Linked DNA regions of Homo sapiens: region 1 is linked to region 2. The links come from fine-mapping of genetic effects on gene expression. Tissue or cell type: prefrontal cortex. Region 2 holds a variant in brackets; the other region holds the start of a gene. All regions are shown on one strand. Distances are between the middles of the regions.

Region 1 (8,092 bases), 390 kb after region 2:
ACTTTCATGCTACAATTTTCATTTTTAATATCTGATACAAATATGAACTTAAAAGGTATATTGTTTCTAGATACAAAAGCAAAGATGAAAGCATATCAGTATTGATATCACAAAATTAAGATTAAAAATAGCAATGACATGTTAATAATTTGGTAGCCTCTAAAGTTACTGGGAGTTCTAGTTCAATCCAGTATGAATCTGATATCATCTTATAACTTAAATCAATGTTACACTGATTATAAATTTATCTATATATTCATCATAGAAAATTACAGAATTAGGTGGTAAGAAACAGCTAGCTATATAAATTGCACAAACTCCCCCCAAACCATTCTCAAGTCTCATGACTTCACACTAAATTATGAAGTTCCCAATGTAAAACCCAATTTGATTTCAACACTAAGCCAATTACAACAGCATAAGCATGTTCTTTCTACATAACACTTGCAACATACATTCAACATCGGAAGCACTTTTGGACAATGTCTAAAATCCATAAGCTAAAAGCAGAACCCAACACAGAATCTTGTTTCTTTTAAATAATAAAAGTTCATCTACCTATATGAGATGAATACCAAATAACATAATTAGAAATGATTAAAAATTTGCAGAATCAGGCTAGAGAAACTACTTGAGGTCAAAGACTATAGGCCCTTAATTGTATATATGAGAAAACTGACGCCCAGAGAAGTTAAGTGACATTCCCAACAGCAATAAATGACACAGATGGAATCAGAATATATGTCTGTCAATCCAGAACTTCCCACTATTCTATACTACCTTTGCACTTACTGTGCTCTTAAAAAAGTAACTAACATCTGAAACACTTAAGATTCATTAAGACTCAAAAACTAGGGGACTCGATAATGTTCATGACAGTCTTTAGAAAACAATTTCTTAAAGGAATCTCAAAAATTCCAAACAATAAGCACTGAAAGCTGGCTCTTCATTTTCATTTTCTTTCCTACCCAGAGCCCTATTTGATCAAAAATTGGCTCTTTAATCCATTGCAAAATATCAGGTAGCTTTTAATAACTAACACTGCTATAAACCACCATAACTGTTCTTTTTCCCATATCAATAGTATTCACTTAATTAAAAAATATCTGAGGGCACAGAATATGCGGATAACTGCGCTGGATACTGGGGACACCAGGGAACAAAACAGACAAGGCCTCTGGCTCTTCTAATGGACAGCTGGGTGCAACTCTAAAAATACTACTCTATGATTTGACAGGATATTTACCAAAGCCCTTCACTACTCTACACAATTGTAACAACATTTTCTTCCACCTCTTCCAAACTTGTAAGAACCTTCACCACACCCCCCTCTAAAACACGAATACTTCCTTTGGTAACAGCATTCCACTTTACTGAAGAAGGTGTGAACGTGTTAACTAGAACTACAGCAGATTTTTAAACTGACTTTACCACTCCTCATGGCCTGCGGCAAATCTCAAGAACTTTTCACAATACATAGTAACCCTTCCTGGTTCACAACCCGGGTCTCAAATGATTGCTAACACACCCATCCTACCCTCCACTAGAAATCTGAGTCAGATGGTTTAGGAGCAACCATAATGGTGGGAAGCATCTTCAGTGGACCCCTTTATGAGCCAGAAGCCGACTTACTCCCTCTCCTTCTCTGTTTATTTCCTCTGGATCCTTCAATATATCTCTGGATACAGTATATCTCCAATTAATCAGCATCTAATTTTATCAAGTGTGTTCCTAATAACTTGTTTGCAAATTAACTTTTGGCAACAAATCTGTTTCCCCTACATAAATCCATTATATTTTAAGAGATGCTCAATTTGCATCTCTTTAAGTTTCTCATGCTTCCCCTTCTCCACCTCTTAAATTCTTAAAGATCTATAAACAAAAGCACCCTGAGAAGTCATAATTAATGGGACTTCTTTGGAATACCCAACCTAAAGCAAAAGTTCACATGCCTTGCTGACCAGAATCATTCACGGAGCTTTGTAAGGACAGATCCCCAGGCTCTATCCTCAGAGATTTTAATTCACCAGGTCCTGCATGAGTTCGAGGAATTTAGGTAGTCCATAATATTTCTAATGACCAGCCTTAAACTAGACAACCACTGAAGAACCTGGCCTATGAGCTGAGAAACTCAGGGTTTTTTATGGCTGGTCATTAACGACAAGCGGGGCTGTACCACTGTGCTGGTCACTTGAAGTTCTCTGAGTCACCTGAAAATGAGGGAGTAATTGGAGCCAAAAGAGGTATTCATAGGCAGCCAATCTAAAATTCTAGAATCCTCCAAATTTAATTTAATATCACATACTATACTGGGTTTACTCAAAACAGTGTCATTCTGGCTGGCGGCAGTGGCTCACGCCTATAATCCCAACACTTTCGAAGGCCAACGCAAGCGGATCACTTGAGGTCAAGAGTTCCAGGCCAGCCTGGCCAACATGGTGAAATCCCCGTCTCTACTAAAAATACAAAAATTAGCCAGCCGTGGTGGCGCACACTTGTAATCCCAGCTACTTGGGAGGCTGAGGTGGGAGGATTGCTAGAACCTGGCAGGCGGAGGTTGCAGTGAGCAGAGATCGCACTACTGCACTCCGGCCTGGGCGGGAGAGAGAGATTCTGTCTTAAAAAAAAAAAAAAAAAAAAAAAAAAAAAGTGTCATTCTGTAAGCTCTTCTAGCCTACCCAAGTCATAGGCCCTATAAAGGGAAGACTTTCTGCATGCCATCAATGTCTCCTGTCCTACTGAACAGCCCTGAATCTGAAAGGGGAAGGTCCCCACCACCTCTCCATGGACAAATCACAAACATTTCACATTGAAAAAAATAATAATAATCTCCTGTAATTCAACCCAGGCCTCTTATGGCATTACCATTCACATATGAGAAAGTTGAACCTTAACTAGAAAAGTATATGGTTTTGGGGTTTTGTTTTGTTTTGTTTTGTTTGTTTGGGTTGTGGAAAAATAGATGTCAGAATCAAGATACTACAACAGTAAGAATTTAGGCCTGGGTCTGGAAAGGACATTTGAACATCAATATGTAATAGCAGTCCATGTCCAAAACTCACAAGTGAGATTATCAAATTCCAGGGGAGTCTATTAATGTGGCCAAAAAATCTACCCCATAATTTTGACATAAGTTTTCCAGTCCAAAATACAACCTACAGTATCATCTTATGGGTCCGGAAATGCCATACATCAAGCAAAATTACTACCGGAGAAATAACACTGTAATCATTTGCGGAGCAGTCTGACCAGGGTTCCCTCAGTTACGCCAACCGCCCCCAATCATCCTACCCACCTAAGTACTACCAGGTCAGGGGGATGCCCTGCTGCACGATCGGGCGGTCACTCCTCCTTTCCACAAGGCCCAGGCCCGCACCGTTCGCCCCGGGGCTCCCATGGCCCCTGACCTCCAGTATCCGGCAACGATGGACCGCCACAGACCCGGCAGGGGGCGAAGGGCGCACACCCACCTCCCGGGAGTTCGTGGGAATAACTCCGGGCGCTCCGAGGGTACGTCCCACACCCAGAGCCGCACGGGCCCATCCCCGCCAGGTCTGGGAAGGCAGCCCGAGCCCGGGACCCCGCCTCCCCCGCATCTAGGGTCCGGGCCGAGCTCGGCCGCCGAGCTCCCATTCCCACTCCCACACCCAGCGCCTCCCCCTGGCGGCGACAGCCGCCGGGGACGCCCCTCCCCGGGCCCCGCACGCAGTCCCCAGCCCTCCCAGGGCGCTGCCTCCTCAGAGGGTGACAGCCGCCTGGCCAGGGCCGGGGCCGAGGCCGGCCCCTCCTCCAGCTCTTCCTCACCCGCCGAGGAGACGGAGGACGGGGATGGGGTTCTTACCGGGCAGCAGGACATGGCGAGGCCCTCCACGGCACAGTCTCCCCCTCCGCCACCCCACCAGGCTCCCTGCCAGGGCCGGCGCTGGGCAGCGCCTGAGCCGCTGGGACGTCTCGTCCGGCTGCTACTCCGCCGCCGCCGCCGCCTTCTCACAACCACAACAACATGGCGGCAGCGGCCACACAGAGCGCGCTCCCGACGCCGAGCCGGGCGACGAGCGAGGACGCGCGCGCACGCTCGGGCGCTGAGCCCGGTGTCCGGGAAAGGGGGCGGGTCTCCGCCGGTTGGACGGGGGCGGGGCCTGGACAGGTGGTCACGCCCCAGGAGATGGGCGGGGCTGCAGCTGGGGAGAGGCTCGCGAAAAAGCCCAGCGGAGCAAGAATGGCTAGACAGATGGGAAATGGGTGGAGGAAAAGAGATGACAAAAAAAAATCTGGAAGAAAACCAAAGGTGGTCCTACAGATTTTTAGGAGGCGTCTTTTCCAAGCTCTGTAACCCTGGGCAAGACATGGCTCACTCTACTTACCAGAAAAATAGAACAATAGTGGTATCTTCCACCTGCAATTGTGGTCAGGATAAAACCAGTTTAATATAATGCAAGTAAATATAGTGTTTTAGAAGTTGTATTCAGAATACAATTTCTTTTCTTTTCTTTTCTTTTTTTTTTTTTTTTTTTTTTTTTTGAGACAGAGTCTGGCTCTGTCGCCCAGGCTGGAGTGCAGTGGCATCTCGGCTCACTGCAACCTCTGCCTCCCGGGCTCAAGCGATCCTCACACCTCAGCCTCCTGAGTAGCTGAGACTACAGACTCACAACATCATGCCCGGCTAAATTTTGTATTTTTTGTAGAGATGAGGTTTCTGCCATTTTGTCCAGGCTGATCTCAAACTCCTGGGCTGAAGCAATCCACCCACCTCGGCCTCCCAAAGCGCTGGGATTACAGGCATGAACCACCGCATCCGGTCCAGAATACAATTTCAAACTGATTCAACTTCAGCTCCTAATCAAAAGCTCAGCGGGAAGAAGTGAGTTTTCAAACAAAGTAAAAAACAACTCCCCCAAAAAATTGTAACCTACCCACACTAGCCTGCAGAATTCCACAAACCAGGATTGCATTACCGTAGGCCCTAACAGATTCACCTCCTCTGAGTTGCCTTTTAACATTCTACCCTTGACTTTTCTGGAAACTGGGAGAACTAGTCAAATGAAATCTATTCCTGCGTCTGTTGTAAAGTTTTTCCACAGCACTTTCTGAAATTTATTTTCAATGTTTACTGTCATTTTACTCCACTAAAATGTAAAAGCTACTTGAAGATAAGGATCTTGTCTTGTTCGTCACTGTTTCCCCAGCACCTAGAACTGTGCAGGTTAAGTAGTAGGCAGTCGAATTTCTTGATTAACTAACAGCTGGCTGGGCGCGGGGGCTCACGCCTGTAATCCCAGCACTTTGGGAGGCCAAGGTGAGTGGATCACCTGAACTCAGGTGTTCGATACCAGCCTGGCCAACTTGGTGAAACCCCGGATCTACTAAAAATACAAAAGTTAGCTGGGCATGGTGGCGGGCGCCTGTAATCCCAGCTACTTGGGAGGCTGAGGCAGGAGAATAACTTGAACCCGGGAGGCGGAGGTTGCAGTGAGCTGAGACTGCGCCACCGCACTCCAGCCTGGGCGACAGAGCAAGACTCCGTCTCAAAAAAACGAAACTAAACTAACAGCTAACATTTATTCATACAACTCATCTAATTGAATCTTCACAACTTTAATAGGTAGATGCCATTATCTCCATATTACAGATGAAGAAAGTGAAGCACAGAATAAATTGCGTGTATTAAAACAAAATTCAAACCCAGCAGACAAAAAAAAAAAAAAAATACTGTGCTGTCTTACCCACCAGGCTGTACTGCCCAGTGCATGGACACAGTAGCCTGAAATAAAATCTCAAGTAAGAAATTACTTTAGGCCGGGCGCAGTGGCTCATGCCTGAAATCCCAGCACTTTAGGAGGCCGAGGCAGGTGGATTGCTTGAGCTCAGGAGTTCGAGACCAGCCTAGGCAACATGGCGAAATCCCATCTCTACAAAAAATACCAAAAAACTGGCCAGGCGTGGTGGTGCACGCCTGTAGTCCCAGCTATTTGAGAGGCTGAGGTGGGAGAATGGCTTGAGCCTGGGAGGCAGAGGTTGCAGTGAGCCCTGATTGTGCCACTGCACTCCAATCTGGGTGTCAGAGAGAGAAAAAAGAAAGAACGAAATAAATTACTTTAGAGTTAAAAGCTTGGAAAGCCCTTGCTTTACTACCAGAAAAACCGGTGTGCTTCCTGCTTTTTGATAACTGTTACGCATCTGATTGTGTCTCTCTTTTCACTCTGGCTTCCAGAAAGCCCAGGGCTAAATGTGAAGCTCAGCAATGACCTCTTCTTGGCCCTTGAGGGTCCACTCCTGCCTCAACTTTGCACCTGTATTTATATGTGGCTGCCCTGATTTTCCCTTTCTGTTCTATGACTGACTATAGGCTTAATGGAATGGGAGAAGAAACAGTAAATACTAAAATTGATGAATGATTTAAAGTTTTTTTATTTTATTTTATTTTATTTTATTTTTGAGACAGAGTTTCACTCTTGTTGCCCAGGCTGGAGGGTAATGGCGGGAACTTGGCTCACTGCAACCTCTGCCTCCCGGGTTCAACCGACTCTCCTGCCTCAGCCTCCCGAGTAGCTGGGATTACAGGCATACGCCACCACACCCGGCTAATTTTTTGTATTTTTAGTAGGGACGGGGTTTCTCCATGTTGGTCAGGCTGGTCTCGAACTCCCGACCTCAGGTGATCCACCAGTCTCGGCCTCCCAAAGTGCTGGGATTACAGGCATGAGCCACCGTGCCCGGCCTCTTTTTATTTTTATATTTTATTTTATTTTCAGACAAGGTCTCACTCTGTTGTCCAGGCTGGAGTGCAGTGGCTGGATCTCTGCTCACTGCAACCTCTACCTCCCAGGGCTCGAGCCATCCTCCCACCTCAGCCTCTTGAGAAGCTGGGACTACAGGCGTGCTCCACCACACCTGGCTAACTTTTGTATTTCTCATAGAGACGGGGGGTGGGGGTGGTGTCTCACCGTGTTCCCCAGGCTGGTCTCAAACCCCTGAGTTCAAACGATCCATCTGCCTCCGCCTCCCAAAGTGCTGGGATTACAGGGGTAAGCCACAACGCCCAGCCTTAAACTTTAAAAATTAAGAAAAAAAAAAAAAGGACTTTCCAACCTGTTTTTCCCATTGTCTGATAAACCAAGGTTCTCATCAGCCATTAAGCCCCCCCGCAGGGAAATTCCCTTAACCAGTCATCTGCTCAGGGAAAGGCCATAGGACGAACTGCCACAGGTTGGTGGCCTCTGATTGGACTGAAGCTAGCACCTGACTCCAGGACAGCCCACCCATAGGCCACCTAGCTTCCAATGAGAAGGCACAGGGCAAAGAGTTCTGCCAATAGGCAGTCAGCATACACTCAACCAATCCCACAGCTCCCCAATTCACCATGGGAGAGCGAAGGAGATGGCTTGTAATTTTGACCTCTTTTTAGACGGAATGTCATCGTGTTTGCCTTTTAATCTGGGCTAAATAATCTTCAATTGAATCTTCAACCAGTATTTGGGACATAGGAGGAATTTCTCTATGCCCATGAAATCACACTATTTGCACCTTCTCATTTTCATAATAGCTAACATGAATTGGAGTGAGTGGCTATTCACCGACCAGATATCAGCACACTACAGCTTCCAACTCCCCGGCTCCAGCAACCCTCCTGCCTCGGCTTCCCTACTGGGTCTAGAGGTATTCACCACTGCAACTGGCTGGATTGAACCTTTCAATTGTGGCGGGCGCTATACGAGCACTTTACATGTATATCTAATGTAATCTTAGGCCGGGCACGGTGGCTCACACCTGTAATCCCAGCACTTGGGGAGGCCGAGGCGGGCAGATCACCTGAGGTCAGGAGTTCGAGACCAGCCTGGCCAACATGGTGAAACCCCATCTCTACTAAAAATACAAAAATTAGCCAGGCATGGTGGCAGGTGCCTGTAATCCCAGCTACTCCGGAGGAAAATTGCTTACTCAGGAAAATTGCTTGAACCCGGGAGGCAGAGGTTGCAGTAAGCCAAGATGGTGCCTCTGCACTCCAGCCTGGGTGACAGAGCGAGACTCTGTCTCAGAAATAAATAAAATAAAATAAAATTTAAAGGTAATGTAATCTTTACAACAACACTAT
Region 2 (8,082 bases):
ATGATTTGGGGGTTTTGGGTATATTCACATGGTTGTGCAACCATCGCCACTATGTAATTCCAGAATATCTTCATCACCTCCAAAGAAACCTCGTGCCCATTAGCAGTCTCTCCCCAGCCCTGGATGCCCCAGCCCCCAGCAGCCACTGGTGTATTCTCTGTGTCTCTCCATGTGCCTATTCCCGACATTTCCCATAGCAGAATCATACAACATGTGGCCTTTTGTGTCTGGCTTCTTTCATGCAGCATCATGGTTTCAAGGTTCATGCATGTTGTGGCACATGGCAATGCTTCCTTCCGTTTTGTGACTTAATATTCCTTTGTATGGATAGAACACATTTTGTTTATCCATTTTCTATTGACAGACATTTGGGTTGCTTCCACTTTTTGGCTATGCCGAATAATTGCTCCTATGAACATTTGCAAGTTTTTGTGTGGATGTACGTTTCCTTCCTTCCTCCCTCTCTCCCACTCTCTCTTTCTCTCTTTCTTATTTTTTTTGGCGTTTCGCTCTTGTTGCCAGGCTAGAGAGCAAAGGCGCGATCTCAGCTCACTGCAGCTTCCACCTCCCAGATTCAAGTGATTCTCCTGCCTCAGTCTCCTGAGTAGCTAGGATTACAGGCGTGCGCCACCATGCCCAGCTAATTTTTGTATCTTTAGTAGAGATGGAGTTTCACCATGTTGGCCAGGCTGGTCTTGAACTCCCGACCTCAGGTGATCCACCTGCCTTGGCTTCCCAAAGTGCTGGGATTAAAGGTGTGAACCACCGTGCTCAGCCTCTTTTTTTTTTTTGTCCAGAGACAGAGTCTCACTCTGTCACTCAGGCTGGAGTGCAGTGGTATGAATATGGCTCACTGCAGCCTTGACCTCGCAGGCTCAAGTGATCTTTCGGTCTCAGCTTCCTGAGTAGCTGGGACCACACAGGTGCAAGCCACCATGCTCAGCTAATTTTTAAATGTTTTGTAGAGATGGGGTCTCACTTTTTTGGCCAGGCTGGTCTTGAACTCCTGGGCTCAAGTGATCCTCCCATCTTGGCCTCCCAAAGTGCTGGGATTACAGGTCTGACCACTGCACCTGGCCTATGTTTTCAATTCTCTTGGGTGTATATCTAGGAGTGGAATTGTTGGTTATATGATATCTCTATTTATTTTTTTTTTTTTTGAGACAGTGTCTCACTCTGTCACCCAGACTGGAGGGTAGTGGCACAATCTTGGCTCACTGCAACCTCCGCCTCCCAGGTTCAAGCAATTCTCCTGCCTCAGTCTCCCGAGTAGCTGGGACTACCGGCGAGTGCTACCATGCCTGCGTAATTTTTTGTACTTTTAGTAGAGTTGGAGTTTCACTACGTTGGCCAGGCTGGTCTCAAACTCCTGGCCTCAAGTGATCTGCCGGCCTCAGCCTCCCAAAGTGCTGGGATTACAGGCGTGAGCCACTGCCTCTGGCCTCTGTGTTTAACCATTTGCGGAACTGCCAAACTGTTTTCCAATTTGGTGGCACCATTCATTGTAGATTCCCACCAGCAATGCCCCAGGGTTCTCATCTCTCCATCTCCTCGTTAGCACTTGTAATTGTCTACCTTTGATTATAGCCACCCTAGTGAATGTGGAATGGCTTCTCATGGTGGTTTTGATTTGCATTTCCCTGGTGTTTAGCATCTTTTCACGTGCTTCTTGGCCATTTGTATATCTTCTTTTTTTTGGAGAAATGTCTATTAAAATCCTTTGCCCATTTTTAAATTGGATTGCTTGTCTTTTTCATTGTTGTTCAGTTGTCATTGCAGTTTAAAAAGAGGAAACTGAGGCTCAGAAGGGGGACATGACTGGTCCAGGGACACTGGGCTCACAGGCAGATTGAGATGGAACTTGGGTTGGTCTCCACCTCCCACCCAGCAGATTGGGGGCCACCTTCTCTCCCCCCACCAGAGCACCTCTCCCCAGCCTCCAGTTTCGACCTGGCCCTGCCAGGCCATCTCAGGTCCTATCCTTGCATTTAAAGGCGTAGGGCCCCACAGCAGAGGGTAAGCCGGAAAGCGAGGAAGCAGCAGTTCTGAGGAACCAAGCTGGTCCTCTCTTCCTCTCCAAATCACGCGGGCCTGGCTGACGTGGCCCGGGAAGAGGGGACAGCCCGGGTCCTGTGGTCGGGGAGCCTATTTATACTGGCTGGGCCATGTTGCAAGCTTTTCCTGCTGGTGAGAGGGACGTCACTGATTGCTGACCTCACCAGAAACGCTGACGCATCTTTCCTCACGCTTGGCTGGGATGGTCAGCGGCCAGGCCTCCTCACCTCCGAGCCACTCCCTGTCCTCCTGTGTATCACTTCACTCTGGATGCTCCGACAGTGGCCCCAGCCCCTGTGCCCTCCAGCTATGCCTTCCTCTTGCAGGCTGCATGGACTGAATGGTGTCTTCCCTGAACTCATGTGTTGAAGTCCTAACCATCGTGTGTCAGAACGTGACTGTATTTGGAAGTTGAGCCTTTAAAGAAGTAATTAAGGGCCGGGTGCGGTAGCTCACGCCTGTAATCCCAGCACTTTGGGAGGCCATGGCAGGCAGATCACTTGAGGCCAGGAGTTCGAGACCAGCCTGGCCTACATGGTGAAACCCCGTCTCTACTAAAAAAATACAAAAATTAGCCAGGCATGGTGGTGGGCACTTGTAGTCCCAGCTACTCGGGAGGCTGAGGCAGAGAATTGCTTGAACCTGGGAGGCAGAGGTTGCAGTGAGCCAAGCTGGCGCCACTGCACTCCAGCGTGGGTGACAGAGTGAGATTCCATCTCAAAAAAAAAAAAAAAAGAAAAGAAAAAAAAAAAGAAGTAATTAAGGTAAAATTGGCCAGGTGTGGTAGCACATACCTGTAATCCCAGCTACTCTGGAGGCTGAGGCAGGAGGCTCGCTTAAGGCCGGGAGTTCAAGGCTGCAGTGAGCTATGAAAGCACCACTGTACACTTAAGCCTGGGCAACACAGCAAGACTTTGTCTCGAAAAAGAAAAAAAAAAGGAATAATTAAGGTAAAATGTGAGTGGGCCCTAATCCAATGTGAATGGTGTCCTCATAAGAAGAGATAAGGCCAAGCGCGGTGGCTCGCTCCTGTAATCCCAGCACTTTGGGAGGCTGAGGCAGGTGGATCACCTGAGGTTAGGAGTTCGAGATCAGCCTGGACAACATGGCGAAACCCTGTCTCTACTAAAAATACAAAAATTAGCCTGGCGTGGTGGCACACGCCTGTAATCCCAGCTACTCAGGAGGCTAAGGCAGGAGAAGCGCTTGAACCCAGGTGGCAGAGGTTGTAGTGAGCTGAGATCGTGCCACTGCACTCCAGCCTGGGTGACGGAGCTAGACTCTGTCTCAAAAAAAAAAAAAAATCGATTAGGCCACGGACAAGCAGAAGGAACATGATGTGGAGATACGGGGAGAGACAGTCATCTACAAGTCAAGGAGAGAGGCCTTGGGAACCAGCCCTTGATTTCAGACTTCAGCCTCTAGAACTGTGAGAAAATAAATCTCTGTTACGTAAGCCCCCCAGTCTGTGGTACTTTGTTATGGGAGTCCTAGCAATGTAATCTACCTGCTCTCCTTACCTTCAGTGACTCTGAGCCCTGGGCCCTGTGCCTGACACCCTCATTAACTATGTGCAAAGAGTATGGTCTTTGGGCCTCGTTTGAATGCCTTCTTTTCTTGGTGGGTTTTTTGTTTTTTGTTTTTTTTAAACAGGGCCTTGCTCTGTCACCCAGGCTGGAGTCCTGTGGCATGATAATGGCTCACTGCAGCCTCAACCTTCGGGGCTCGAGCGATCCTCCTGCCTCAACCTCCCTAGTAGCTGGGACTTCAGGTATGCACTACGATGTCTGGATAATTTATTTTTACATTTTCTGTAAAGACACAGTCTCGAAGTCCTGGGCTCAAATGACCCTCCTGCCTCGGCCTCCCAAAGTGCTGGGATTACAGG[C/T]GTGAGCCACCATGCCTGGCCAAATGCCCCTCTCCTCTTAACTATTCATAGGTGACCTCAGACAAAGCAACCTCCTCTCTCTGCCATGAGGAGACAGCACGGCCTCCCTGGACCACAGGATAGATAGAATAAGATAAAGGCATGTGGCTGTTTCTCACCAAGCGTGGTGGTCGGTCAGCCACAGCTGAAAATGGCCTAGACCCCTCTGCTCAGATCTGGCGCTCCTTCCTTGAGCCAGCCCCTAAACTTCCCAGAGCTTCGAGCTCCTCACTGAAGTGAGCTGAGGTGTCACTGCCCAGCGGCTTCTCTCCCCTGGCTGTTGCAGGATGAGATCGGTGGCTGGGTGCTGTGGCTCACGCTTGCAATCCCAGCACTTTGGGAGGCCAAGGCAGGAGGATCATTTGAACCCAGGAGTTTGTTATCAGCCTGGGCAACATAGTGACACCCCGTCTCTACAAAAAATAAAAAAATTAGCTGGGCATAGTGATGCATGCCTGTGGTCTCAGCTACTCAGGAGACTAAGGCGGGGAGCCTTGCTTCAGCTTAGGAGCTGGAGGCCACAGTGAGCTACCTACAATGGCGCCACTGCACTCCAGCCTGGGTGACAGAGCAAGATCCTGCATTTAAAAAAAGAGAAAAAAAGACGAGATCAGGGATGTGAAATGGAGAAGGATCCCCTCTTGGCATGGCCCCAGGAAACAGCATTGTGGGGGTGGGCACAGAGATGAGGACTTCAGCGGAAGCGACATTCTCAGGATGAGAATCCAGAACTGGCCCCTGGGGGTGGTGAGGGGGAGGTATGAGGCCTGGTGTGGTGAGTCCCAGCCTGGGTGCCGGGGAGTGGGTAGGGGCTGAAGAGCAGCCTCCTGGGCGTGGGGTCGCCTATTTTTGCCTACTACGTGATCCTCAGACCTGGGAGTGGCTGGTGCAGCATGGAGCCAAATAAAGGTTTGTCGAATGAATAAATGAGTGATGGGGAGAATGGGTGGCAACTGCCTTGGTGGCCACAGTGGGCATCGGGAGCAGGCATGGACAGGGGTGCATCCAACCTCCTCCTTTCTGGCTGCCCCAGCTCTCCTTGCTCAGGCGCCCCAGACCCCATGCTCCCTCCAGCTGGAGCAGCTCAGGCCTCCCTGGCAGCCTCCAGGAGTCCCACCCTGACTCCCCAGACTCCTGAGGGCCTCCTCCCACCCGGGCTTCTTAGGGTGCAGGCCAAGGACCCTCCTCTGGGCCTGGGAGATGTGCTGACCAGGCAGGGTCTATAGGCCTGGGCCAGCCTCTTGGCCTCCCTGTCTGCCTTCACCCAGGCCTCAGTTTACCCCACAGTAAAGTAGCAGTTTGACTAGGGAGGCGCTGTTCCCAGGGCCCTTTCGCAGAGGACCAACCTAAGATCGCTATCTTTCAGAGAAAGTGAAACCTGGTCCCCAACTGTCAAGGCGGCAACTCCCCCTCCCCGGCTTCCCCTCTGAGCTCACAGCTTCCCCATCTCCTCCTTCCCCCATCCCGCCCCCTCGACAGCTAATACTTGGAATCAGACCTTCATCTTTGCTTTTTCCTTCAGAGGTCTTTTCCTTTTATGTCCATGCTGGCAGCAACCCTGTGAGGTGGGCTGGGAAAGGCTTTTCTCCTCCTCATTTTATAGTTGTGGGTCTCTGAGGCCCAGAGAGGTTAAGTGACTTGCCTCAGGTCACACAGCACCTCAGCAGGCTTGAACCCTGGCCTCCTGTTTCTCTTGCTCCAAGTGTCCAGTTCTCCCCAGTGGAGCCTGCCTACAAAGACAAGGCCTGGCTTTGGGGAGTGGGCCTGGCAGAGGGTGCACGATGGGGGAAAGGAGACCGTCGGGAGCCGGGCTGGGGGATGCTGGTCCTGGGGCCTGAACCACAATCTCGGGGCTGCCAGCCTGCGTCTGGCTCTGTGCCCAGAGCCCGGTGGTTTCCGCTCACAGATGTCCCAACAGCCCCGGCGAGAGGGCAGGAAGGGCACTCAAGAAGGAAGATGTCTCGCTCCCCTCAGCCCCCAACCACCGTGTCCTGTGAGGCCAATGGCTCCTGGGCCAAGACTGGCCTGGGGCCTCCAGAGGCCCAGCTCGAAGTCCCTCCTGCCCATCCCTGGCCCAGTTCCCTGAAGATGGCATGGACCCTTTTCCTCCCCACTCACCCTAGGAAGGCTGAGGCTGCGGTTTTACATCATCCTTGGGCGTAGGGCTGACCTCGAAGAACGAATTCGAAGAAAACAGGAGGAGGAGCGGGCATACACCGCGCCCTGCGCCCATTGGCCGCCCGTGGAAATTTTGGTTTTTGGGGTCATGTTCCCAGAAGGCCTGCCCTCCCCCCTCCCCATCCCCACCCACCTCATGAGGTGTTGGCCAATCGCCCCAGCGGGCATAAAGTGGCTGCCAGCCTGCAGGGCTCCCAGCCGAGAGGTGTCACCCCCAGCGGGCGCGGGCCGGAGCACGGGCACCCAGCATGGGGGTACTGCTCACACAGAGGACGCTGCTCAGTAAGTACTTCCTTCCTCCCCGCCAGAACCCGCCTGCTGGGTCTGCCCACGGGTGCCGGTGGGGAGCAGAGGCACCCTCTGCCCTCCGGGAACTGGGGAGGCCAGGCGCCAGGCAGAAGGATGCTGAGAAGGGGAGAGAGCCAGGAGGTCAGGCAGAGAGAGTGGTCCACTGAGAACCTGGCATCTCCACAGGTAGAGAAGGGGCATCCCTGGAAGGCTTCCAGGGGGAGGTGATGTCAAGATGTAGAGGCAACTCTGGGAACCAGGGGGTGAGAGAATAGGATGGGCAAAGAGGCTGGGCAGGAGAGGGAGGCTCAGAAGCTGGGCAGGGAAGTGGTGTGAGGTGTGGAGGGGTTGTGGGGCCTCCAGCTTGCCCGGGATGAATAGAAAGTCAGCCAGGCCTGGGGGCCCCAGGGCCCACACAATCACACAGCATGCACAGCCACACCCACATGGCCACATGCGCACACAGCCATATGACGTCATCTACAGCCCTGGATCTCACCAGCCCAGGAACCCCCACATGCAGACCAGAGTCCCCATGGTGAACGGAACAGGTCTCCCTCACGCCGCACACAGACCCAGATGCACAGCCACACAGAAACCCCAGTCCCACGTGCGCTGCCACAGGCACAGGCCCCTGCCAGAGCCCGGCAGCAGATACCTGGGGAGGCGGCGAGGGTGCCGTGGGGTCGCTAAGCCTGGGTGCCTGGCCCCTTGGCCCTCCCCAACAGCCAGTCTTCCCCAAAGGGCCGGATGGTTCTTAGGACGGGAACGATGGTGTCACTGCCTTCCGGGCCATTGCGCCATAGGCCCCTTCCGACCACGTGGCTGCCGGTGCCCCGTTGGGGGTGGTGGTGAGCGGTAACTGTACCCGCCCCCAACACCTTCTGACAGGCTCACAGCATCCCTGGTGGGCCTGACAGAAGGAGCCACTTATGGAGAGAGGAGGGAGGCAAGAGAGGTCAGGGGAGAGCCCTGGCCTTGTGTGACCTGAGTAGGACCTTCTCCTGAGACTTGGTTTACCTGTCAGGAAAGTGGGGACATGGACTGGAAGGTCTTCCACATCTGTTCCAGGCTGCACCTCTGGTTGAAAAGGCAGCCTCTCCTGGTTCTAGACAGAGCTGAGGACACAAGCTGCTCCCGGGCTGCCTGCCCTGAAGCCCTCTCAGGCCCATCTACCTGGATGGCCAGAGCAGCTGACAAGGCAGGTCCTAGGGCAGTGGCCGGTCTTTAGCCCAGTGGTCTTGCAGGGAGCCAGTCCCACCTTGCAGAGAGTCAGCTCCCGAGGTTAGAACCGTGCTGTAGGCAGGACTGGGATCCGGCCAGGCACTGCAGCCTTTGCTCAAAGACCTACTTGGTAAATCGCAGCCACTGTCTCAGTCCCTCCCACTGCTTGCTGTGTCAGGCCCTGGGCAGTGACTTACTGGGGAGATGATGGTGGCCTTGGTGGGCACACCTGGGCACACACCGTGCCACACAGTGCCCAGCCCCCGCCCTCCACTACACAAAGTCTGGGATGAAGGAGGCACCTTTCAAGGCCCTCTTGAACCCCCTCCCCGAGGCTCCCATCTGTGGCTTTCCTCACCAAGTCAGGTGACACCCCTCTTCTCTGCCTTAGGTCTGGTCCTTGCACTCCT

Alleles and levels. Alleles are on the strand shown, and positions count from the first base shown. SD is a standard deviation of normalised expression in the study named.
As copies of T replace C in region 2, the expression in prefrontal cortex of the gene that starts at base 4,027 in region 1 goes up (moderate effect, 0.41 SD a copy in GTEx).

Evidence for each region. PIP is the estimated chance that this variant, and not a neighbour inherited with it, causes the effect.
Region 1: MTMR3 starts here. The variant in region 2 is fine-mapped to the expression of MTMR3 in prefrontal cortex (GTEx, PIP above 0.99).

The regions. Positions count from the first base shown.
Region 1 is chr22:29,879,109-29,887,200 of GRCh38, reverse strand. MTMR3 (myotubularin related protein 3) reads right to left here and starts at 4,027. Exons shown (of 20, transcript NM_021090.4): 1 at 3,842-4,027. RefSeq lists silencers at 3,485-3,984, 4,045-4,214, 7,216-7,315 and an enhancer at 3,927-4,221.
Region 2 is chr22:30,265,126-30,273,207 of GRCh38, reverse strand. It overlaps OSM (oncostatin M), which reads left to right and starts at 6,357. Exons shown (of 3, transcript NM_020530.6): 1 at 6,357-6,442; 2 at 8,064-8,082. The coding sequence starts at 6,409. RefSeq lists enhancers at 6,954-7,053, 7,114-7,193. The variant C/T (reference allele first, on the strand shown) is at 3,944.